Homo sapiens: one gene and its partners. The protein of the gene in region 3 interacts with the protein of the main gene of each other region in a biochemical or structural test. Each region holds a gene or a part of one and is shown on either strand. Other genes may lie near its edges. The genes, in order: RIMS2, PATJ, ABCC4, SYNPO2L, PALS1, PPP1R9A and GRID2IP.

Evidence for each region.
Region 1: the proteins of ABCC4 (region 3) and RIMS2 interact in a test that uses a peptide from one of them, tested with the Homo sapiens proteins (one large-scale study listed by IntAct).
Region 2: the proteins of ABCC4 (region 3) and PATJ interact in a test that uses a peptide from one of them, tested with the Homo sapiens proteins (one large-scale study listed by IntAct).
Region 4: the proteins of ABCC4 (region 3) and SYNPO2L interact in a test that uses a peptide from one of them, tested with the Homo sapiens proteins (one large-scale study listed by IntAct).
Region 5: the proteins of ABCC4 (region 3) and PALS1 interact in a test that uses a peptide from one of them, tested with the Homo sapiens proteins (one large-scale study listed by IntAct).
Region 6: the proteins of ABCC4 (region 3) and PPP1R9A interact in a test that uses a peptide from one of them, tested with the Homo sapiens proteins (one large-scale study listed by IntAct).
Region 7: the proteins of ABCC4 (region 3) and GRID2IP interact in a test that uses a peptide from one of them, tested with the Homo sapiens proteins (one large-scale study listed by IntAct).

What each region holds. Positions count from the first base shown.
Region 1 is NC_000008.11:103,507,110-103,510,609, forward strand, and holds part of RIMS2 (regulating synaptic membrane exocytosis protein 2), read left to right. Parts: intron 1-3,500. UniProt on the Homo sapiens protein: Rab effector involved in exocytosis. May act as scaffold protein. Plays a role in dendrite formation by melanocytes.
Region 2 is NC_000001.11:62,161,448-62,164,415, forward strand, and holds the end of PATJ (inaD-like protein), read left to right. Parts: 3' UTR 1-2,468; downstream 2,469-2,968.
Region 3 is NC_000013.11:95,067,452-95,070,951, forward strand, and holds part of ABCC4 (ATP-binding cassette sub-family C member 4), read right to left. Parts: intron 1-3,500. UniProt on the Homo sapiens protein: ATP-dependent transporter of the ATP-binding cassette (ABC) family that actively extrudes physiological compounds and xenobiotics from cells.
Region 4 is NC_000010.11:73,649,530-73,653,029, reverse strand, and holds part of SYNPO2L (synaptopodin 2-like protein), read left to right. Parts: intron 1-1,989; exon of another isoform or gene 1,990-2,022; coding exon of another isoform or gene 2,023-2,122; intron 2,123-3,500. UniProt on the Homo sapiens protein: Actin-associated protein that may play a role in modulating actin-based shape.
Region 5 is NC_000014.9:67,247,935-67,251,434, forward strand, and holds part of PALS1 (protein PALS1), read left to right. Parts: intron 1-3,500. UniProt on the Homo sapiens protein: Plays a role in tight junction biogenesis and in the establishment of cell polarity in epithelial cells.
Region 6 is NC_000007.14:95,271,094-95,274,593, forward strand, and holds part of PPP1R9A (neurabin-1), read left to right. Parts: intron 1-2,805; coding exon 2,806-2,893; intron 2,894-2,991; coding exon 2,992-3,075; intron 3,076-3,500. UniProt on the Homo sapiens protein: Binds to actin filaments (F-actin) and shows cross-linking activity. Binds along the sides of the F-actin. May be involved in neurite formation. Inhibits protein phosphatase 1-alpha activity.
Region 7 is NC_000007.14:6,509,962-6,513,461, reverse strand, and holds part of GRID2IP (delphilin), read left to right. Parts: intron 1-2,422; coding exon 2,423-2,554; intron 2,555-2,755; coding exon 2,756-2,853; intron 2,854-3,061; coding exon 3,062-3,179; intron 3,180-3,309; exon of another isoform or gene 3,310-3,446; intron 3,447-3,500.

The DNA of each region.
Region 1 (3,500 bases), on a different chromosome or scaffold from region 3:
ATTGAGCTTAGAATGCTGATCTTCACATCGCCCCTCAAATACACTTAAGCTTTGTATGATTGCCGGTTTCTCATCCTTCTGGCTTAGCTTCAAATTTGGATCTTTAGAGAGCTCTTTTCTGACCACTCTTTCTTATGTAGATTCTCTCCATTATTCTTTATAACAATACCTTTTATATTTCCCCAATTATGCTTATCAAAATTTATAATGATTTATTTACTTGTTTATGGTCTGTCCACTCTGCTAGATTATCAACTCAAAGAGAGCACACACCATGTCTGTTTTGTTCACTAATGCAGCTTCAACTTCTAATGTAATACAATGCCTTACACATAGTAGTACTCAAAAATATTAATCGGGTGAATGAACGCACATTGGGAATGAAATATTATGTTCATCTAGGTGGTACAAACTTTCAAGGTGAACTCCAATAATCTTAAAAAAAGATTTGCTTATGTAGTAGTGTCCTTATTTTTGAAATCAAATGTAATTTTTAAACATGCCTAATTTTGCTTATTTTACATGGAAGGAAACTTACAGTGTTTGTGTATGATTGCAGCTTATCTTTCTTTTGGACTAAGAGCATATCTTTTTTGACTAGAAACTAGAAGAACATTGTGATAGATATCATTTTTAAATTTAAGGAATATTAGGAATTAGGGAAAATTTGGCTGTAAAAGTGATCCTTTAAGAGAATTGATACATTTCCATTGTGTTTAGCACAGATGAGTGATAAAGAGTACACAGAAGGCTTTGGATAGAAATAGTTCATGCCCTCCAGGGACAGATAATCTAAGGCCAACCATAATCATATGAACACATAAAAATGTAAAGTGTCATGAAAAAATACTGTAAAGGTGTTTTTAGTACATTATAACCATGGTAAAAAATATGTCAGACTAATCTTACTAGTAGTTTATTGCCTCTATGGTATTGTTTGATTATATTGTGTTATATTACATGGTGTCACATAGTTTTTCCTGTTAAAATATCTGAAAGTTTCACTGCTAGATATTAAAAACTTTTGTATTCTCTAGTCACCTAATGAAATACAGATATCTCTGGGAGTTGAAATAATTTTAACCATTATCAGGTAATTCTTAAGGAGCTCATTGTAAGAAACGTGATAAACCACATGAAAATTTTGCATGGTAAGTACCAGGAGACTACTGTGCACTACAGTGTATCATGGATATATTTTACAAGAGGAGCACGTGATTCAGTCCTGGGAAGATGCCATCTAGGCTGAATCTCAAATGATGAGTAGATGTTAGCTGGGCAGATTGTTCTCTAAGCAAAAATCTTAAAACTCCCAATTCCTCTTTGCCCCCAAAACCTTTCATTTGTTAAAAAAAAAAAAAAAAAAGAAGACGATGCAGGACATGGTCAAGAAGTTTGCTTGAAGTGGTTCAGAAGAGCACAGATTTAAATGGTGATGCGTCAATAGAGGAGACTGGAGAGATGGCAAGGTTCAGAGCCTAAAAAGCCTTCTATGCTATTCTTTGGATTTGGCAATAGGGAGTCATGGAGGGATTTTAAGCAGTGACACAATATAATTAGACTTCTGTTGGAACAAAAACCACTCTCATTTAATAGATTGGTTAGAAGGTGTAATACTAGAGATAAAGGCACTATTTAGGAGATTCTTACAGTAATCCAGGTAATAAATGATGAAGACATGAAATAAGGCAGTAGAGGTGGAGGTGGAGAGTCAAGACAAATTTTTGAAAAATTGAGGAGCCAAAATTGCCAGGATTTGACAGCTGTGTGTTAAGGGTCAGGTAAACTCTTATGATGCCAGACTTGCGTAACTGACTACTGTACATAATATATATCTGCCTGTATCTGCTTATCTCACTTATAGTTAGCTCTGTGAAGTCATCTGGTCCTAGGACCAGTGTTCTCTTGAGGGAGCAGTTGTGAAGTGGCTTATTTTATTGTTTTAGTTATTCTAGAGAGTTTGTAGCATTAATATGAGTAATAGAAGTGACTATAACTTGGTATAATGGGATGGTAGTAAAAAGGACCAAAAGGGACAAAGAAGAAAAGAAAGGACAAAGAACAAAGGGGAGAAAGTAAGATTAGGGCTCTTGGAATCCATTCATAATTAGAAGGAACCCTTCTTAATAGCTTATAAAATTTTTTCTACTGGGTATATTCACACCATGTAATCTTTTCAGAACTTCAGGACTATCATCCTTTTACTGAATATTCCCTACTCCCATTGATAACTTAGTCTCAATGAATTTCTCACCCTCTGGTTTTATTTCATTCTTTGTGTATTTTAAACTATCACACAATCTTTGTTTTATATGTTAGGCTTAGCAAGGACAAATTTCCTTCCCTGTATATATTTCTGTATCACCTCTAAGGGAATTTTGGAAATATGAGTGTATTTTAGGAAAATATAGAGAGGAGATTAGTTATGGAAATGACATGTGGAAGTTGGTGAAGATTCTGTGCATCTTTATATTAGCTTACTGAATTATTGCAGAATTTCAGAAAGTGCTTGTATTATAAAAGGGAGATAAATTTTATTGGGTTTTGTGATGGGAAGCTCCAGAAATAGGAATTGAGGTAGAGTTATGGAAAGGGGAAAGTTAAGAAAAGGTTTACACAGGAGTAATATATTATTTTACCTACTTTCTTTCTAATACGGGTAACCTACAAAATTGAAGACAACTAGATAGTATAAATTAATTGGTCAAGAACTAACAACTTTAATACAGTTTATATATTATGAACACATATCTATATTATATATACCTGTCAAAACTCTTACTTTTTGTACAATATAGTGCTAGCTAAATGCTTTTTAAGGCATTTGGAATTAACAACTTTTGTATAGTTACATGGTTATAAACATTTAGTATTTTTATATAATACAAATACTTTGATAGGTTCTGCTAAACAGAGGAACTGGATAAATGCTCCTTTAAGGCACAGGAGGAATGCCCTTTAGCATTTTTTTCTTCCAATCAAGCTTATGTTCAGCTCGAAGAGACAAATAGTTTGGTAGTTTCTTGTATCCTGTAACTAGGCTTCTGGGAGGCTAAAACTAGGGGAAAAGGATACACTAAACAATATAACTGGGTAGCAGAATAACCACAATGGTGTTTGGTGCTTTGGTATTGTTCAGTTGACAGATGGAGGTGGTGCTCACATTCATCTTGTTTTGTTGGCATATTTGGTATCTGTTATCATTTTTATAATAGTTTGCTTCCCAGGCACATAGATGAAAATCTGTTTTATCACACATAAAACAGTCTTCAATCTGAAAGAATTAATTAATACTTCTATTAGCACACTTATTTTTCTCACTGGGCCAAAATCTAGGTGTAGGTAGGGCCGCATTTCTTTCTAGAAACTAAAGGAGGATTGTTTCCTTGCTCATTTGGGTTGTTGAAAGAATTACGTTCTTTAAGTTATAGGACCGAGATTCTTGTTGGCTATTCAGCTGAGGGCTGTTCTTACCTCCTAGAGGCCTCTTTCTGGTACTT
Region 2 (2,968 bases), on a different chromosome or scaffold from region 3:
CCTGCCTCAGCCTCCCGAGTAGCTGGGATTACAGGCATGCATCACCACACTGGGTTTATTTTTGTTTTTTTAGTAGAGATGGAGCTTCCCCATGTGGGCCAGGCTGGTCTTGAACTTCTGACCTCAGGTGATCTGCCTGCCTTGGCCTCCCAAAGTGCTGGGATTCCAGGCGTGAGCCACTGCGCCCAGCCCAGTATTCTGATTTTAACCAACTGGTTCTGATTATATTTACCAAAACTGGAGTTAACTTCTCTTTCCTTATACTCTTCTCTCCCTATCCCCTACTCACACCGAGGCTTAACAGCAACCTCAGATCTCATCCAATGGACAGAAACAAATGTTAAGCAACTTGTCATCTCACTCATGATTTACTTATGCTAATTGTCTCTTCAAGTAAGCAAGAAAACATTAGCAGTGTAATTAATTTACCAGTGATCCCCAAGATGAAATACCAGATTCTCCTATGGGAAATTACTGTGCTGTCTTCTGTATGACTTATGGTCAAATAAGTCTCAAATTCATTTCTCTGGATAGATCTTTATATGCTAGTCATTGGTGATTTTGATGAGTCAATTTACAGACTGTAATCTTCTAAAAATTCTGAAAGACTAATTGTTTTCTGTGCCATATAAATGCATACCACTGAGCAAATGAACCTTATTCTCAGCAGGAACAACTAGCATACATGTTCTGAATTCTAACAGTGCTAAATTACATTCAAGTCCAGGAAGATCACCTGGAATTAATGGCATTTCAGTTGGCAGGCATCATTCCCACCCCTCGGTCTTAGGAAAAGGAGGTAGAAGCCCCAGAACCACACGGCAGAGATCAGCAAGTTTTGTCTCAAGTCAGACAAGGTCTAGGTGGCCTTGGCCTTATGCAAAGTGGGTGACATATTTGATTATATTTCCCTTTACCTCCATAGTAGTCAGGCCAGCAGCATGGACTGCAAGAACCTAAGGGAGCAACATACTTAGCTGCAAAGTGAGCAAATGAATTGAGCCTAGGAATATGTGATGAAAATGCATGGCTGATGTTTCCTGATCTCCAAGGAGACTCCCATTTGCTGAAGTTTTGCATGCTAAGAAATCAACTACAGCAGAAAATACAAGAATACCTTTAAGTTGATTATTGGCAATCTTATTCATATATTAGCAAGAAAAAGGGAGAGATGCTTACTGGTGGATGCTATAGAGTCCTCTGTTTTTAAAAGTACCATGGCCGGGTGCAGTGGCTCACGCCTGTAATCCCAGCACTTTGGGAGGCCAGGGCAGGCGAATCATGAGGTCAGGAGTTCGAGACCAGCCTGGCCAATATGGTGAAACCCTGTCTCTACTAAAAATACAAAAATTAGCTGGGTGCAGTGGCAGGCGCCTGTAATCCCAGCTACTCCGGAGGTTGAAGCAGGAAAATTGCTTGAACCTGGGAGGTGGAGGTTGCAGTGAGCCAAGTTCGTGCCACTCCACTCCAGCCTGGGTGACAGAGCAAGACTCTGTCTCGAAAAAGAAAAAAAACCATGAAGGATGAGTACTAGAGTCAGTAATAGAAGTAGTTCAGCATTATTTAACTACAACACAATGCTGCAAATATTTCACAGTAATTATCAAAATTTAATGGGCTCTAATTTAAAATGTTATTTAATAAGTATAGATTTTAATTGAGAATTATCTTTGAGTAGATGTAATCACAAAGTGCATTAACTCTTGTTGGAATATTTTATGGCTATTCCAAAGTATAGAGTGCCTAAATTTTGTGTTGAAAATGTCTTTCATGACGGTATTAAGTTTTCTGAAATTACACATGGCTTTTAAAATTTCTAATGTATCCAAGATGTGCAATGTTGTTAGGATCTCATTCTTCAGTGCATGAAAAGCTACTACCCTCAGAACATTTTGTGTTAATTGTACCTGCAAGAACACCTCAGGCAAGCCAAGAAGAAATGAAACCCAAATAAAACTTGAAAATGCACCTTAAAAATATATATACATATAATAGTTTTGAAATGGGATTCTGCTTTATTTTGATGGAATGGCCATTAAATACACATTTTGAGATAATACATTGTTGTGGTGTTTCTTTATACATTATCCTTTTAGGTCGTGCTAGTAAAAGTATATTGATGAAGGAATTATGATGCTTTATACTTCTTACTGCACTAAATTGATAGAACTAGTACTTGTCATAATCGGTTCTGTCTCCGCTCACATGACTAATACGTAATTGCCTTTCCAAAAAGATATTTTTGCCTCAGAACTTACTGACAAGCTGAGAGGCTATGAAGATGGAAATTTGTGAAAGAAGTAGTGCTCTTATATTTGGCCTCATCATTTGGGCCATTTCAGTATAGTAATGATATCACTAATCGGAATTAGCATGAGAGGGAAGTAAGCCAGGAAGAATAAAACTGCTGAATGTTTGTATGTGTAAGATATTTCCAAAGATTCTAAATAAATGTAGTTGCCTACAGAGCAAATGGAGTTTTATTATATATGAAAAAGTGTACTTTCTGGATCTAATTGTGCTTTTTCTTCAGCATTTTCTTCCCTAATAGAAAAAAAAAAAAAGTCCAACTTTTCACAAGGTTTTTTGGTGTCCTGTTAAAATCTGGAATCCATGGTGGCTCACGCCTGTAATCCCAACACGTTAGGAGGCCGAGGCAGATGGATCACCTAGGTCAGGAGTTCAAGACCAGCCTGGCCAACATGGCAAAACCCTGTCTCTACTAAAAATACAAAAATTAGGATGGGCGCAGTGGCTCAGGATCCATGCCGCCATGCCCAGCCAACCTCTAATGTTTCTTTCCTGGCCCTTTCATGCATGTGCAGGTGAGTATTTGACAAAGAGGCGATCTCCATGGCTCTGTCAACCTACAGCTCCCTCCTTTCCAGACACTACATGTTCTAGCCAACTTGGCTGGCCTCCCTGAACGTGAATCTCTTTCTCCTCTACTCGTGGACTCTGTGTGAGT
Region 3 (3,500 bases):
AAATCACAGATTATTAGTCATCCAAAATTGCTTACCGGAGAGCAACGGCTTTAATGCAGGGGCAGGAGTGGGGGTGGTTCTTGTCCCAGTGCAATTTTAATCAAAAGGGTGGGGTGGGCCTGACAGTCTGCATTTCTAACATGTTTCCAAGCAGAGGCAGGTGATGCTGATCCCAGCCCCTGAGATGAGCAAGCAGGCAGGGCAAGTGGGACAATCTGGCTGTGAGAGGAGGGGTTTCTCAGCAAACATTAATGTAAAAAAGGAGAGAATATAAGAAACTAATATTTTTGCACACTATAGCAAGGTCTAGTACACATCTGTAAAAAGGTATTATCCAAGTAATAGCTTTGAGCAAGGAAAAAAAAATAACAAACCAAAATCAATCTACCTCTAGAGCTGAAAAATGCTTTAAAATGGCCCAGTACTCTCTAAAATGATTAAATCAACCACAAAACCATCTAAATGAAAAATGCAGCCAGTGTTTGGAATCTAACCAGGAAGGCTAGGGTGGTATATACCTCATTTTGGTTCATTCTTTTTTACTTGCTATTTCTTCTGTGAATTAGAAACCTACTTAGCGCCTATTACTTTTTCCTATTTGTTATAATGTCCAGGAAATCTGAGCAGATGAAGCAATTGAAAGAGAATGAAGCCCTGTTTCTGCTGTGTGGACACATTCCTACATCTCCACTGGAAACAATGCCCCTCTCCATCAGCTCCAACAGCAAAGGGACTGCCTGAGATCCTGGGGCTGCAGGCAGGTGTGGAGGAGACGAACCCTGAATATACACACAAAAAGTGGAACCAACTCACCACGATGTTGCCTGAATACACAAATGAAGCTAAAGGTGACACTGTGAGTGAACCAGGACACAAATCAAAAGCCAAGTGGGGCTCAGCGCAGTGGCTCATGCCTGTAATCCCAGCACTTTGGGAGGTCGAGGCAGGTGGATTGCTTGAGGTCGGGGTTCAAGACCAGCCTGACCAACATGGTGAAACCCCGGATCCACTAAATATACAAAAATTAGCCAGGCATGGCAGCGGGTGCCTGTAATTGCAGCTACTCGGGAGGCTGAGGCAGGAGAATCGCTTGAACCTGAGAGGCAGAATGAGCCAAGATTGCGCCACTGCACTCCAGCCTAGATGACACAGCGAGACTCTGTCTCAAAAGCCAAGTGGTTGTAGCTATAATTCAGTCTTCAAATTCAATTTACCCTCCCACATTTCAGATCTCAGGTAATCCTATGATTTGGGGGGGTTTTAAGATGGAACGATATCAATGTGGGGATATAGGTTGTTTTCTAATGTGTACAACAGAGGTTTGTAGATAATTCATATTTTATGGCTACAAGAGAAATTTACAACGTGGCCAAACTAACAGAATGATGTTGATCAGGTAGGACCTAATAACACATTGTCTGAGAGTAAGCAAACATCCCCCTGGCCCCATCAGGAACAGAATCTGAGAAACCTTGCTTTCAGCAAGAGCTACAGCTGATGCTGCCTGCAGAGTGGTCTCCACCTTCTTCACACTCACAAGGATGCTGGGTAGATAATGAGGAATCAGCTTTTGCTGGTTCCCTGGGTATCTTCTGGGCATGAAGCTGTATATTTATTTTTCATGGCACAAGGGTATCATTCATTCAATTGTGACTATAGCCCATTAAATGGGTCTGTGGTGGGAAGAGCTGAAAAGAGCAGTTCCGAAAGTATCTAACACTGACACCCAGAGAACGGGCTGTTGCGGGAGCTGTCGTGTGTGTTTTGTTACCGATTTCTTTGTATGTGCATATCCCTCACTCTCACAGGCACCCACCATGTGCCCTGCAGCATGCCATTTTCTGGGGGTACAGAGACGAATATAAAATGCTCCCTGACTTTAAGAGGCTCAGGGTACTGTGAGATGCTGACCCAGAATTATAAATCATGCCATCGTGCTATCTTCTTTAAAAAAAAATTGTGGTAAAATACACAAAAGGTACTTTATGTACTTTTCAAATTGTGGTAAAGTAACATAAAATTGATCATTGTAATCACTTGAAAATGTTCAGTTCAATTATATTAAATACATTCATGTTGTTGGGCAACCGTCACCATCATCCATCTCTAAAACTCCATTTATCTTGTAAAACTGAAACTCTGTACCCATTAAACACTAATGCCCATTCCCCTACCCCTGCCGCCCACCATCCTACTTTCTGTCTCCATGACTAACTACTCCAGGTACCCACATGTAAGTGGAACCTTATAGCACCGTCCTTAGGTGTCTGGCCTAATTCACTCAGCATAATGTCCTCAGGGCTCATCCATGTCAGAATCACACATGTCAGCATGTGTCAGAATCACCTTCTTTTTAAGTCTGGATAATATTCCATTATGCGTGCGTATCACATTTTGTTTTTCCATTCCTCAGTCAATGGACACTTGGGCTGCTTCCACCTACTGCTCACTGCAAATAATGCTGTTATGAACACGGGTGGGCCACAGATGTTACATTAAAGAATCTGGCCAGGCATGGTGGCTCATGCCTGTAATCCCAGGCATGATTTGGGAGGTTAAGGTGGGCGGATCACTTTAGCTCAGGAGTTCGAGACCAGCCATGGCCAACATGGCAAAACCTGGTCTCTACTAAAAATTCAAAAATGAGTTGGGTATGGTGGTGCACACCTATAATCCCAGCTACGGGGGAGGTTGAAGCAGGAAAATCGCTTGAACCTGGGAGGTGGAGGTTGCAGTGTGCCGGGAATGTGACATTGCACTCCAGCCTGGGCGACAGAGCAAGACTCTGTCTCGAAAAAAGAATCTATAAGATGATGTGGAGAATATAGTTTCAAAGAGGCAGAGATGCTTGAACTGACTGAAAAGGGTGCACACTAAGAGCAAGGCAGACAGGTGCTTGGGGAGAAGGAGGGCACCCTGAGTGCAGGGGATGTGTGTCCATATTGGGAGTTGTGAGGAGAGGGGTGGGAAGGGGAAGAGATTCTACTGTCTTGTTTGTTCTGGTTTAGTTCCTTCAAGAGGCTGTCCTAGTCCTAGCCAAGGGCCCCAGGACACATGTGAAAGGGACATTGCTGGCAGACTTAGATACCTGCAAAACCAGCTCACAAAACTCCACACAGCCTCCCAAGTCCCTCCTTGTTTTCCTTTCACTGACTTTGAGTGAGTCTCTGGTGCCTTTACTGCCTCCAGCTTGGGGGTCTGATTTCTGAGCACTGATGGGGTCATGGGATCTGGGTCTTCCCTTGGGGGCTGAGAGCCAGACAGGTCCTGTCAGGGTGGGCCTGGGGCTCATTAAGGTTGCAGCAGCTGCTCACCCAGGCAAGGAGCTGGCCACGTAAGGATCAGATCTGTGATCAAACTGTTTCAGAAAGAAAGAGTTTGCAGTGAAAGGGATGGGGAGGGAAAGCAAAGCACAGGTTAAAGGAAGGCAAGAAAGACTAAGGAAAGGGCCTGATAATGTTTGGCTGTGTCCCCACCCAAATCTCATCTTAAATTCCCAC
Region 4 (3,500 bases), on a different chromosome or scaffold from region 3:
TGGGGACAGGAGGGGTAATGAGTAGAAGGGGAGCATAATTATTCTCATGGCCACCATTATTTTTGCTGTTTGAACCAATGTGGCAAAAGGGTAAGGTGATTCAGTTCAACCCAGGAACAGGGTAAGTAGGGAAATTGGAAAGGGACACAAATAGATGAAGGGTTTGGTGGTGGTGATAATTGTTATTGTGTGTCATGATTGGGTGAAAGCAGAGTACAGACACAGGACAGGGGAGTATTTAAAAGCAGGTTGAAGGCGGGGCAAGGTGGCTCATACCTGTAATCCAAGCACTTTGGGAGGCTGAGGTGGGAGGATAGCATGAACGCAGGATTTTTGTTTTGTTTTGTTTTTTGTTTTTTTGAGATGGAGTTTGGCTCTTGTGCCTAGGCTGGAATGCAATGGCGTGATCTTGGCTCATTGCAACCTCCGCCTCCCGGGTTCAAGCGATTCTCCAGCCTCTGCCTCCCGAGTAGCTGGGATTATAGGCACCCGCCACCACACCTGGCTAATTTTTTGTATTTTTAGTAGAGATGGGGTTTCACCATACTGGTCAGGCTGGTCTCGAACTCCTGACCTCAGGTGATATGCCTACCTCGGCCTCCCAAAGTGCTGGGATTACAGGCGTGAGCCACCATGCCCGGCAGAAGCCAGGAGTTTGAGACCAGCCTGGACAACATCGTGAGACTTCGTCTCCAGTAAAAATTTTAAAATTAGCCAAACACTGTGGCACATGTCTATGGTCCCAGCTACTTGGGAGGCTGAGGCAAGAGGATTGCTTGAGCCTGAGAGGTTTGGGCTGCAGTGAGCCATGTTTGCGCCACTGCACTCCAGCGTGAGCAACAGACCAAGACCCTGTCTTAAAAATAAATAAATAAATAAATAATAAAAATTAATAAATAAAAGTGGGTCAAAGCTACAGGGGTTCTTTTTTTTTTCTGGTTTTTTTTTTTTTTTTTTTTTTTTGAGATAGAGTCTTGCACTGTCACCCGGGCTGGAGTGCAATCTTGGTTCACTGCACCCTCCACCTCCTGGGTTCAAGCAATTCTCCTGCCTCAGCCTCCCGAGTAGCTGGGATTACAGGTGCCCGCCACTACACCTGGCTAATTTTTTGTATTTTTAGTAGAGACGGCGTTTCACTATGTTGGCCAGGCTGGTCTCGAACTCCTGACCTTGTGATCCACCCGCCTCGGCCTCCCAAAGTGCTGGGATTGCAGGCGTGAGCCATTGGCCAAAGGATTCTTTATAGTATTAATAGCAGGCACCTTTGACATTTGCAAGTTCAGTTCGGATTCCTGGGGACTGAGAGGCTATGGGATGATCATGAGATCCCGAGGAAGTGGCAGAGGGAGGGAGCTTTGGCTCCTTATCTCAGGCAAGAATGTTGGCCTGGGCAGAAAAAGCCCATTCCACTTATCTCAGGCTTTGCTATTTTTGATGTGAGCTACAGAACAAGGTCTAAGGGTAAACGTTCTCCCTGCTCTATGCCTCCCGTGCTTTCCCACAGAGACCGTTCTTGTTACCTCCAAAATCTCATGATTCCCCCTCTAGTTATATTTCTTCCCTCTCCTCCACCATTTTGATTCCTGATCTATAGAACTTTGTGTCTCTCAGTTTGGAGTGGAGGCTAAGGACATGAGAGTTGAGAGTCTGACATCCCTGAGTGTCCAATATCCCAGGAATTCCAGATGCGTGCCTAGGATCCTATGCTTTCCTCAATTCTCCACTTATCTCCCCCTCCCTTCCCATAATGCTGGATGAGACTGTAGCTACTGGCTCAGAGATATTTTTAGTCAAGCAGACCTCATTGTCTACTGGGGTGGGGTTGGGGGAAGGGAAGGCAGGTGCCCACATCCATCACACCGGCACTTGTGGGGCAGCCCAGAGAAGGGAGAGGGCCAGGCTCCAAAAATAGCACAGTGAGCTCATTCAGCTGCCAGCTCTGGGGACAAGACAAAGGGGCTTTAAAAGGCGTGGGGGGTGGCTCAAGCTGGTCCTGCTCCAGCCAACACCGCCTTTCTCAGCATGGAGACCTTTGAGCCCATCAGCCAAGAGCCCCTCAGCCAAGCCAGCTATGACAAAGCCCCAGACCCAGTTCCTGAGCTCCAAGACTCGTTCTATGCAGGTACTACCCTCCCATATCTATGAGAGTCTGGGGTCTAGAATGGAGGGGAAGATGTCAATAGTTTAGGAAGGGTAGTCTTTGGGAAAGGTCTTACTCTCTTGTTCCTTTTTGCTGTCCTCTTCCTCCTTTTCTCAGGAGAGTTTCACTGCCCCTTTCTCAGTGATGCTGTGGTCACATGTCAAAGGGGTTTCTGACCACAAGAGCTGTAGAAAACTCATGGGAACAGAGCGTGTGTGAGTACATTATGAATACATGAAGGCATGTATGTGTGAGTCATGGGAGAAGATATGTGTGAACAAGAAAGTATCCATATATATCAAGAAAGTATAGTGTCAAGAAGACTTCAATAGTAATGGTTATAGTGGGCCTTCACACTGTGTTAAGTGCTAAATTTACTATATTATCTCAGTTAATCCTTATAGCAATCCTATGAGGTAGCCATTGTCTACCCTCATTTACAGATGAGGAAACCGAACTTTAATGAGGTGAGGTAACTATCCCAGAAACCAAAAACCTGAACTGAACTCTGACTCTAGGGCCTGTTGTCTCATCCATACCACTATTCTGTGGTATAAACACTGGGATGAGAGGAATGACAAAAATGAAAAAGTTCCATCTACTTTCCACTCAAGATACCACGCTCATTACAAAGGAGCTCATTACAAAGCTCATTACAAAGGAGCTCATTACAAAGGAGCATGGTACCTTGAGTGGAAAGTAGATGGAATCTCAATAATTTTTCAGGAGGAACTGGGGACCATGGACCAGAGAGTATCCATGTGCAAGGCGGGGTCCTCGCAGCAGGGTAGCCCTCCCATTTCCTGGCCCCACCTACCCAGGCCCCACATGGCATGGAAAGCCCTGCCCTGGTTCCCTTTAGCACATAGTCTTTGTGTGCCTGGCTGGCAGTGGCTGCCTGAGCTCTCTACGTAGAGACAGTTCTGACCCCTGAAGAAGCCCACCCCACTACCATCCCCAGCTTGGGGTAAATAATATATTTAGCTGGCGACCTTGAGGTATCCTAAAGATTTGGAGTGTTGCCTTGGAGAACAACACTCTAACTTTTCCTGCATCTTGGATGGAGACTACCCCTGACTGTGAGTAGCAGGGGTGTGAAGCCCAGAGGACTGCCCTGGCAGTTGGAAGGCCGAGATCAACTTTAACTTCTGTCTAAACTGTTAGTAACAGGGTCTCTGCAGGGAGGTCTCTGGGAAGAAGGGCCACCTAGAGCATGTAGGTGTGTGAATGTATTTGAGTGATGGTGTTTTGATGTGCACACATGTGTATTTACATAAGTGTATGTGAATGGAGCTGTATGTAAGCTGGGGTATATGTGAATGAGAGAGAAAAGTAAATAGGAGAAAGTACGCCTACAGTT
Region 5 (3,500 bases), on a different chromosome or scaffold from region 3:
TTAGCTGTAGGTCATTTTGTGCATTCTGTTAAGGAGGTTAAGGAGGTTTTCTTCTGTTCCTAGGTTACTGAGGGTTTGTTTTTTAAATCATGAATAGATGTTGAATTTTATCATATGCCTTTTCTGCATGTATTGAGATGATTGTGTGAACTTTTTTCTTTAATCTGTTAATATGGTGAATTACACTGATTTTTCAAATGTTGAACCATATTTGCATGTTTCTGGGACTAACTCTGGGGTTATTTTAAACAAAAATCATTTTGGATTTTTAAAAACTAATATACATTAACATTTATTCTTAAAAATGAAGGAGCAATGTCACATGCCTGTAGCCCCAGCCAATTGGGAGGCTGAGGTGGGAGGGTCGCTTGAGCCCAGGAGTTTGAGTCCAGCTGAGCAACATAACAAGATCTCTTTTCTTAAAAAAAAAAGGAAACCAAATATAAGATTTTGTGAACTAAAATACTTAATGAAGTCAGTAGAGTCAAGGTATTCATTAACAGTTACCTACCTACATTTTACATTTTAGTAGGACTTAAATTTTCTTGATTATGATATAACATTATAAAAATTAAAACATTTGGCTTTCTGTCTCATATAATTTTATAGTTTCTTCTTCAGTTAATAGTCTCAAACACCCTCAAAGACGTTGAAATTTTGAGGCCTCCAGGGTTCTTGGCATTTTGCTTCTTTAAGGCAGGGGTCAACAACTTTCGGTAAGTATTTTAGCTTCGTGGGCCATATTGTCTCTGTTGCAAGTACTCAGTTCTGTTGTTAGAGTGGCAGAGGTAGCCAAACAAATGAGCATGACTTTTCCAATAAAACTTTACTTATAAAAATAAGGTGTGCCTGATTTGACCTCTGGACTTAGTTTACATACCAACATTTTTATTTTATTTTTTTGAGATAGAGATGGGGTCTCACTGTGTTGCTCAGGCTGGTCTCGAACTCCATGACCCAAGTGATCCTCCCAAGTTGGCCTCCTAAAGTGCTGGGATTACAGGCATGAGCCACCACGCCTGGCCTACATACCAATTTTTTTTTTTGAGACCAAGTCTCACTCTGTCCCCCAGGCTGGAGTGCAATGGCATGATCTCAGCTCACTGCAACCTCTGCCTCCCGGGTTCAAGTTATTTTCCCTCCTCAGCCTCCCGAGTAGCTGGGATTACAGGCACCCGCCATCATGCCTGGCTAATTTTTGTATTTTTGTGGAGATGGGGCTTCACCATATTGGCCAGGCTGGTCTTGAACTCCTGACCTCAGGTGATTTGCACGTCTCGGCCTCCCAAAGTGCTGGGATTACAGGCGTGGGCCACCATGCTTGGCCTCATACCAATGTTTTAAGGCAAAAAATCAGCAGGAGAAATGACAGTAATTGTAGTAATGTAGTAAAAGGAAGCTTGGGGTATTTATTTCATGCTGTAATTCTAGGCCAAGCCTCACTTTTCTCACCTATGACATGTAGCCACCTTGAAAGATGATTGAAAAATTCAAGCTGAGATATGGAAAGCACCTAGCAAAATATCTGACACATAGCAGATACTTAATAAATATTCACTTATTCACTTTTTGTTTCAAGACTGCACAGTGCTTTGTCACAAACCAACAGATGTGAAATAATTAAGGAGAGTCAGGTTTTTACAGTTTGTAGTATATCTAATAAGTTCAAATATTAGAAATTTTAATTATGTGTCTATAGTTATCTTTTGAGTTATGCTTTTTTGATATAAATCATAATTGGCTTCACAATTTGAGAAACTTCACACAAAAAGTTGAGGATTTTGTGTGAAAACATTATATTTTGAGAGTTTTACATTGTCACAGAAAAGGTTTGAGAATGTAACTTAAAATACATTATTTTGTTTTGATGTAAGAAGTAGGCAATCTGTATTTTGCTTGTGTGTTTTAGAAGTGCCTTTAAGACTGCATTCGTTTAACGTGATTGCTTCCTATGAATGTAGTGAGCTAGGTGCTCTGCTAGGACTTGGTTGTACTTAGAGTATCCATATTTAGATACTCATTTTTGTGTTATGTTTGAAATGTAAGTAACGCTTCGGAAAGTCTTTTTTTCTGAGTTTCTATCAAGATAAAGCTGTTCTATTTTGTTTTTTATGAAGCTGGTTGAGATTCACTAGAGCGATTTTATGGCACACAAATGGGTCACATCCTACAACTTGAAAACCATTGATGTAGATAGACGAAAGTAACCCTTCTCCAAGAGGCTGTGTTCATAATTTCATTTAAAATTCAGCCACCCACTCTTCCTTCCTCCAGGAACGTTCCATACCCTCCTACTGGCAATAAGTTTTAGTTCTTAAAATTTTAGTAAAGTATGCATTAACAATTTATTCTTTTTTGTAACTCATCTGTAAATTATCGAGAGCTGTGACTACTGTTTGATGTTCATTTATGCTCAGAAGTACTAGACACTCAAATATTTACTGACCAAAAAAATCTGGAAGAAAATAAGTTATGTGTTAAACAGTGGTTCTTCTGTCTTAGTATTGGAAATCACATTGCCTCACATTGAAAACTGTATAAACTCCAGTTTATGTGTACTGGACATGCAGATTTAACTGTCTAATATTAAACAAAAAATTCTAGTTAAACAGATTGTTTTGTGATTCTGATAGTCATCTGGGCCCTTCCTCTGAAACACACACACTGTTCATACAATATGCAGGGATTCATGGAAATAAAGTCATGAACCCCAGATACAGGTCTCTGATCCAGGTGATTCATCGACTGTATAAATGACCTGCAAATGTTTTTCACAATAATGATTTGCATAAGGGTAATCAGTACATACTTAGAGTTAACGAAAATAAATTTCATAGTTTTTGTAGGCATCCTAAAGGAATCTTATCCTTCTGTTTTTTATACCTTATCCTTTTATACTTAAAATTTATAGCAAGATTGATAGTTCATTTGACCAAATCACAATACTTTCTGCTTTCCCCTCTTATCCAGAATTGTATCCCTCGCTGTGTCTCTTAATGTGTTATGCTGTATGCTGTATCCTTTGTATGTATTTCTTAAATATTAACAACTACATTTCAAGTTCTTTGTCAGCATTCTTCTTTTTACAAATGAGGAAATTGAGGCTCAGAGAGATTAAATATTTTTTCCATAGTCCTATTATAAGTGATAGAAAGGAGTTGAATTAATTTTATTTGATCCCAAAGCCCTTGGCTTTTCTGCTTTGTCTGTAATATAGCCTGCCTTAAGACTTATTTTAACATTGTCTTTTTGGTAAGATTAGAAACTTTTTGATGAAAGCCATTTTCCACTTTACCTAGTGTTTAAAAATGTACGTGAGGCTGGCGCAGTGGCTCATGCCTGAAATCCCAGTATTTTGGAGGCCGAGGCAGGAGGACCGCTTGAGCCCAGGAGTTTGAGACCAACCTGGGCAACACAGTGGGACCCTGTCTCTACAAAAAATACGAAAATTAGCTGGACTTGGTGGTGTGTGCCTGTGGTCCCAGCTACTCAGGAGGCTA
Region 6 (3,500 bases), on a different chromosome or scaffold from region 3:
CAGGCACATATCATATGATTTAAAGGTACAAGGCTATCCCAGCCTGGCTGTAGCAGTTTGCTTATGCAGGGTGGAGTAGTTACACACAAAAGTGAGCCAGTAGGTTAAGTATATAGCTTTAGAAGTTAAACATCTTAGATAACTTGCCATATTACTAGGAAACCACAAGAAGTTTGACCAGAGGAATAAAAAGGAAAAGACACCACCAGGTATGGAGAAGCTGAGTTAGGAGACCCTATGAGGTGGTGCCCTCTAAAGAGGAGCAGTAGACAGTGACAGGAAAGAATGATTCAAGGACCCTTGAGACATACCTTGACTAGGTAACAGGTAAGAAAGTGAGGCAAAACTATCATGGGCTTCACGCCTCAGAACATATGGTCTTGTCATTAACAGAAAATAGGAAATCAGCAACATGATGGGGGAAATAGGATTAACTCATTTTTTTAACAGAGGAGGTCATGAGCGCAAGAGAGAGGTCAGGACTGCCAGGTAGATTTGGGAGTCCCCATTATAAAGGAAGAGATAGTCAAGTATCTTATTACAGTGAGATTAAGGAGATGCAGTCCAGTACAAGACCTTAGGATTTGGCCATCAGGAGATCATTTATTATTTGAAAATGAAAACCAGGTTGCCACAGCTTAAAGTTGAGGCACCCAATCTGGGGGCTCAGATGTATAATTGGTCACAAAGGTAGTATTGGAGAGATTTTAAAAAGCCTAACAGAAGTCTTACGTAGAGCTAAATAAACAAAATGTATGTTTCTTTTTTCCTGAAATCATACCAATCTAATGTTGGATTTTATGCAGACTAGAAGTTCTAGTGTGCATTAAAGATGGATTTAATCGATTTTAAATGGGAAAGTACATTATTCCTTATTCTTAACATCTTCAGCCCTATGGAAGCATTCATTTCAGTGTTCCTGGGAACGCACTTTGGCAAATGTGTGAGATAAAGATGTAAGGTTGCCTAGCACCAAGCTCTGTGATAGGCAGAATCAGGCTTTTAGTCGCATGATGTCCAAATAACTGCAACACTCATGGGTTACAGAGTGTTTTCGTGTACATTGCCTCAGCTGGTCTTCTCAGCGCTCATTGTAACATCTCCCAGCTACCTCTCATTCAGGAAATAATTAGGCAGTCTCCTTTTAACTTTGCATAGTCCTAGCCATTAAGAGTTGCTTTAGGATTGATCTGGAAGAATTTGGCACTTTCTTTTCTTCAGCTTCTATTAAGAAAATTTAAATCTTGCTTTTAAAAATAAAATCCATTAGTAAAATCACCTTAGAAGGTGTTTGTGCCATGTCTATGTCTATGGATTTTTTTATATGATTGTGTCACATCTGTGACAATTCAGTTACCCAAAGAGTAATGATGCAAATATGCATAATAAATATTTGAGGCTTGAAGTGGATTTTTGACACAGACATATTTCTGACTCTTGTGTTTCATTATGTACATTTCAGTGAGTTGCTTATTGTAATCTAAGTATCATTAACTAAAAATATGAAAAGCTCATTGCTAAAAACATTTGGAGTATTTGTCAGTGTCCTGTGCTGCTTGAGAGCTTTGAACCTAGACTGCTATCCATGAACTGTGTGTGTACTTCATGTTTTTTAAAGGTGTATGTCGATGTGTGTTGAGAAATTTCTCTTGAAGTAAACAAAAATCATGAGCAACATTAACCTGCAAAGTTAATTGAACACTTTTTTAAGAGGGCCATTCTCTTTGCCTTCCATACTAGAAAGTTCCTAGAAATTTAAAACACATTTTAAAAGATAAGAGACAGAAAAACAGATACCAAAAAAGAACTGGGGAGGAAGAGTTTCACACATAAAAAACATCAAATTTAAAACAGCATTTGTTAATCATCTGAGCTAATTGGATATGCTGAAACGTGATGCCGATCAGTACCCTCTGCTGAATAGTTTGGGTAGAGCCTGTCCGAGATGGAACAAGTGCCACCAGTGGAATTGGTTCCCACCTTGACATTGAACTCCATTTGCAAAGCCTGTCTTCCTATTGGCTTTTGGTATCATTTCGAGGGTCCCCATTCCCCAGCAGCTGCTACCTTTGAGAGTCCTAGAGGCAAAGATCAGTCTGCTCTGAACACTGAGGAGATTTTGGCATCTTCCACATTAAGGGGAACCAGCCAAGTTTTGCTGTAACCTAACTATTAAGAAGGCCCTTTCAAAGATATAAATGTTTTGTAGCTGAGCCCCTGTTTAAGGAGTCTCCCCCATGTCCTCCCCTCCTCTGTTCCAGGACCGGCCACAGGCCATTAGCAAAGGAGAGCCAGAGAAGAAAACTTTGACTCTGACTTTCCCCCTAAATCTCCCAGACTCTCAGAGGTGATATTCTGCGCTGGGCTTTGGAGATACGGGAGAAGTGGGCTATGTTCCTGTTAGAAGGCACTACAACCCCAAGGCAAGAAAGGAATGGAGGACAGAGCCCAGGCACTTGAAGCCAAGAATTTGGAGCCAGAGAAGGAACAAAAGTCATGTTGGTCCCTACTTCGAATGCAGAGGATGATTTGAGAGTATTTATTCTCCCTTGTTCATTCCCATGCAGTTGAAGCTAAAACTCTTTGTGATGAATGTTGAGCCTCTGTCCTATAGAGGACCTCCCCTGCTTAACTGCGAGTTCCTCAATGTAACTGTGTCTCCTAGGTCGTATAAGAAGGCATTGATTATTTATTTTACAATTAGGAATTTAGGCAAAGCCCTTAGATTCAGAGATGCATTGACTTTTGAATTGTGACTTTAAAAATAATAATAATTGATCTTTTTCACAAATGTGTATATCCTAGATGATGCCAAAGATCCCAAATCACTAAGGGCATCCAGTTCATTGGCGGTGCAAGGAGGAAAAATTAAGCGGAAGTTTGTGGATCTGGGGTAAGCACTTCACGATGTAAAAAGAAAGCCCTCTGTAAAAGGAGGATTGAAAGAGAAAATTTCAGCTTCCCCTTTCTGACTGCTTACTATCATTACAGGGCGCCTTTGCGAAGGAATTCCAGCAAGGGAAAGAAGTGGAAAGAAAAAGAAAAAGAAGCCAGTAGGTTTTCTGCAGGTAGCAGGTACGGTTGTGTGATTAAGAACACGTGTATTTCTATACCTAAACTTTCTGGCCCCCTCTTCTATTGTTAACCAAAATCAGTGGTCAGTATCTTTGAGCTAAAGTGATATGCCAAGAATTGAGATGGAAGAAAAATTGCACAATTAGTTTATATTGGTCTTACTCCAATTATAGCCTCCATCTAGCCTTGGGCATATCCATTGGTTCTTAATTGCAGAATTATGGCCACATGAACCATTTCAATAAGTGTTTATCTAAATTCAGCACAAATATATCTATGTGATACTTCAGAAATATCAAATATATTTATGTGATACTTCAGATTTTTTGCCTGGCTACCCACAATGCTAGTGCATTGTATTAAGTCTAAAAGGATAATCATTTTGCATTTAAGTACCTTGTTGACATTCAAGATTGTCTTGTCCA
Region 7 (3,500 bases), on a different chromosome or scaffold from region 3:
CATCACTTGAGCTCAGGAGCTCAAGATTAGCCTGGGCAACATAGCAAGAGCCTGTCTCTACCAAAAAAAAAAAAAGTTTTAATTTAGCCAGGTGTGATGCACACCTGTAGTCCCGGCTACTTAGGAGGCTGAGGTGGGAAGATGGCTTGAGTGCAGGAGATCAAGGCTGCAGTGAGCTATGATCAAGCTACTGCCTCCAGAAAAAAAAAAAGGAAAGAAAAAAAGAAAAAAGAAAGAAACTCACGTGGTTGCCAGACATGCCAACACCACCACCAGGATCATGAGCACACGACCACATCCCACCTGGCTGGTGGGCTCCCAGTGTACTCTTTCTTGCACACACACAGGCCTGCAGTGCCATGTGTGGCTGCCACCTGTCTGTTCAGCGTGCCCTCCGAATGCCCACAAACCCCTGCACTCAGCATGCAGGTCATGTGGATGGAAGGTGTGCCGAAGCCTGTGTTCTACCCTGTTCTAGGCATCCTGCACCTGCTATGAAAGCCGCTGCAGGTGCAGTGGTTCACTCTTGTAATCCCAGCACTTTGGTAGGCTGAGGTGGGTGGATCACTTGAGGTCAGGAGTTCCAAGTCCAGCTTGGGCAACACAACAAGACCCCCATATATTCAAAATATTTAAAAATCAGCCAGGGGTGGCCGTGCGCGGTGACTCACGTCTGTAATCCCAGCACTTTGTGGAGCTGAGGCAGGCCAATCACGTGAGGTCAGGAGTTCGAGACAAGCCTGGCCAACATGGGGAAACCTCATCTGTACTAAAAATACAAAAATAAGCCAGGTGTGGTGGTACGCAGTTGTAATTCCAACTACTCGGGAGGCTGAGGCAGGAGAATTGCTTGAACCTGGGAGACGGAGGTTGCAGTGAGCTGAGATCGCACCACTACACTCCAACCTGGGCAACACGGTGAGACTCCATCTCAAAGAAAAAAAAAATAAAAAATTAGCCAGGCGTGGTGGTATGCACCTGTAGTCCCAGCTACTTGGGAGGATGAGGTGGGAGGAGCACTTGAGCTCAGGAGTTGGAGACCAGCCTGGGCAACATAGCAAAAAAATTTGAAATTAGCTGGGTGTGGTGGCACACACCTGTAATCCCAGCTGCAGGGGAGGCTCAGGCAGGAGGATCTGTTGAGCCTGGGATTCAAGGCTGCACTGAGCCTTGATTGCACTCCAGCCTGGGGGACAGAGTGAGACCTGTCACAAAAAAAAAAAAAAAAAAGAAGAAAAGAAAAAAAGGCAGGTGTGGTGGCTCACATCTGTAATCCCAGCACTTTCAGAGGCTGAGGCAGGTGGATCACCTGAGGTTAGGAGTTGAAGACCAGCCTGTCCAATATGGTGAAACCCCATCTCTGCTTAAAAAAAAAAAATACAAAAATTTAGCCAGGCATGGTGGTGCATGCCTGTGGTCCCAGCTACTTGGGAAGCTGAGGCTCGAGAATCATTTGAACCTGGGAGGTGGAGGTTGCAGTGAGCTGAGATTGTGCCACTGCACTCCAACCTGGATGAGAAAGCCAGACTCTGAATAAATAAAGAGAGAAAGAGAGAAAGAGACAGAGAGAGAGAAAAGAGAGAAAGAGAGAAAGTGAGAGAAGGAAGAGAAGGAAGGAAAGGAAAGGAAGGAAAGGGAAGGGGCCGCTGCAGAGTTGCTGGTCCTTGTGTGCCCATGAGCTGCAGTCCCAGGGACCCACAATTTGCTAGGGTTTTAGCGAGAAGCTCAGGATCCATGCTGGACCACACATGCCTTACATATCTGCGTAGGCTCAAAAAACTTCTATTTTGGCCGGGAGCAGTGGCTCACACCTGTAATCCCAGCACTTTGGGAGGCCGAGGCAGGCGGATCACCTGAGGTCAGGAACTTGAGACCAGCCTAGCCCACATGTTGAAACCATATCTCTACTAAAAATACAAAAATTAGCCAGGCATGGTGACGGACACCTGTAATCCCAGCTACTTGGGAGGCTGAGGCAGGAGAATCGCTTGAACCTGGGAGGTGGAGGTTGCAGTGAGCTGAGATTGCACCACTGCACTCCCACCTGGGCAACAAGAGCAAAACTCAGTCTCAAAAAAAAAACACTTCTATTTTGCCCATAATCCTCTCTGGGCAGCAGTGACTTGGCCTGGGGCAAGCACAGGGCGTTGAGACTCTGGAAGCTGTTGTCATGAGATCTCTGCTAGGCCCCTGAGTTCAGGCTAGCTGCATTCTGGTGCTGCATTCTGGTGCTGCTCCTGGCACCTGGTTTCTTGCCCTGGGGCTTCCCCTCAAGAGCTGTTCTGGAGGCAAGCAGGGCAGGCCCCGTAGCTTGGGGTCTGCATATTGGTGCAGATGACATCTGCCCTCCCCTCCCTGTTTTGGAGGTCCCTTGTCTGGCTGAGAGGGCAAGAGGGCCCCATGTTCCCTGCATGTCCCACAGCAGAGCCGGAGCCTGAGCTGGACCTGGAGTCCGAGCCCACGCCTGAGCCCCAGCCGCGGAGCTCCCTGCGGGCTTCCTCCATGTGCCGCCGCAGCCTCCGGTCCCAGGGCCTGGAGGCCGGCCTCAGCTGCGGTAAGGCTGGTGTCAGGGGGAGGGTATGAATGGAGCTCAGTTTTCCCACCTGCAAAATGGGCTTGGTGAGGTGGGGAATCCCAGGGAATGGGGCTAAGCAGGGCTCAGGATTGGCCCTCCTGGGTCTGCGGGGCATGTTGGTTCTGGGCCGGGGCCTGAGCCGTAGAGCTCAGATACGGTAATGACATTATTCCCCGGTAGGTCCCAGCGAGTGCCCTGAGATGCCTCTTCCCCTGATCCCAGGCGAGCGCCAGGCAGGCGACGGCACGTCCCTCCCTGAGACCCCCAACCCCAAGATGGTGAGACCTTCTCTGCCCTCCACGTGGGGTCAGTAGGGGGCAGGGAATGGACGGTCCATAGGACTGGGCCCAGGAGACCCAGGCCAAGGCGTCCCTGTGCTGCTTCAGGCTGGGGCATATCCCTGCCTCCCGGCCCACCCAGGCCTGGACCACATTAGGGCTACGAGGGGAAGCAGAATGGGCTGGACTCTCCCCCGTCTCCCTCCAGATGTCAGCCGTCTATGCAGAGCTTGAGTCTCGACTGAACAGCAGCTTCAAAGGGAAGATGGGGACCGTGTCCAAATCCCGGGCTTCCCCTCCAGGCCCCAGCCCAGCAGTCACCACAGGTAGGGCTCCAGCCTCTGTCATCTACTGTCTGGGTGTTTCCCTCCACCCCAGGCTCAGCCCTGGAGCTGCTTCTCTGCTCCATCAGGGTCAGGGTTGTCCCAGTCCCTCCCATGGCCCTGTGACCCTCACCTCAGCTGTGGATCAAGAAAGTAGCCTGGGTACCGTGGGTCGTGCCTGTAATCCCAGCACTTTGGGAGGCCGAGGCAGGAGGATCAATGGAGCCCAGGAGTTTGAGACCAGCCTGGCAACATAGTGAGGCCCCATCTCTAACAAAAAAAATACAAAATTAGCTGGGCATGGTTGCATATGCCTGTAGTCCC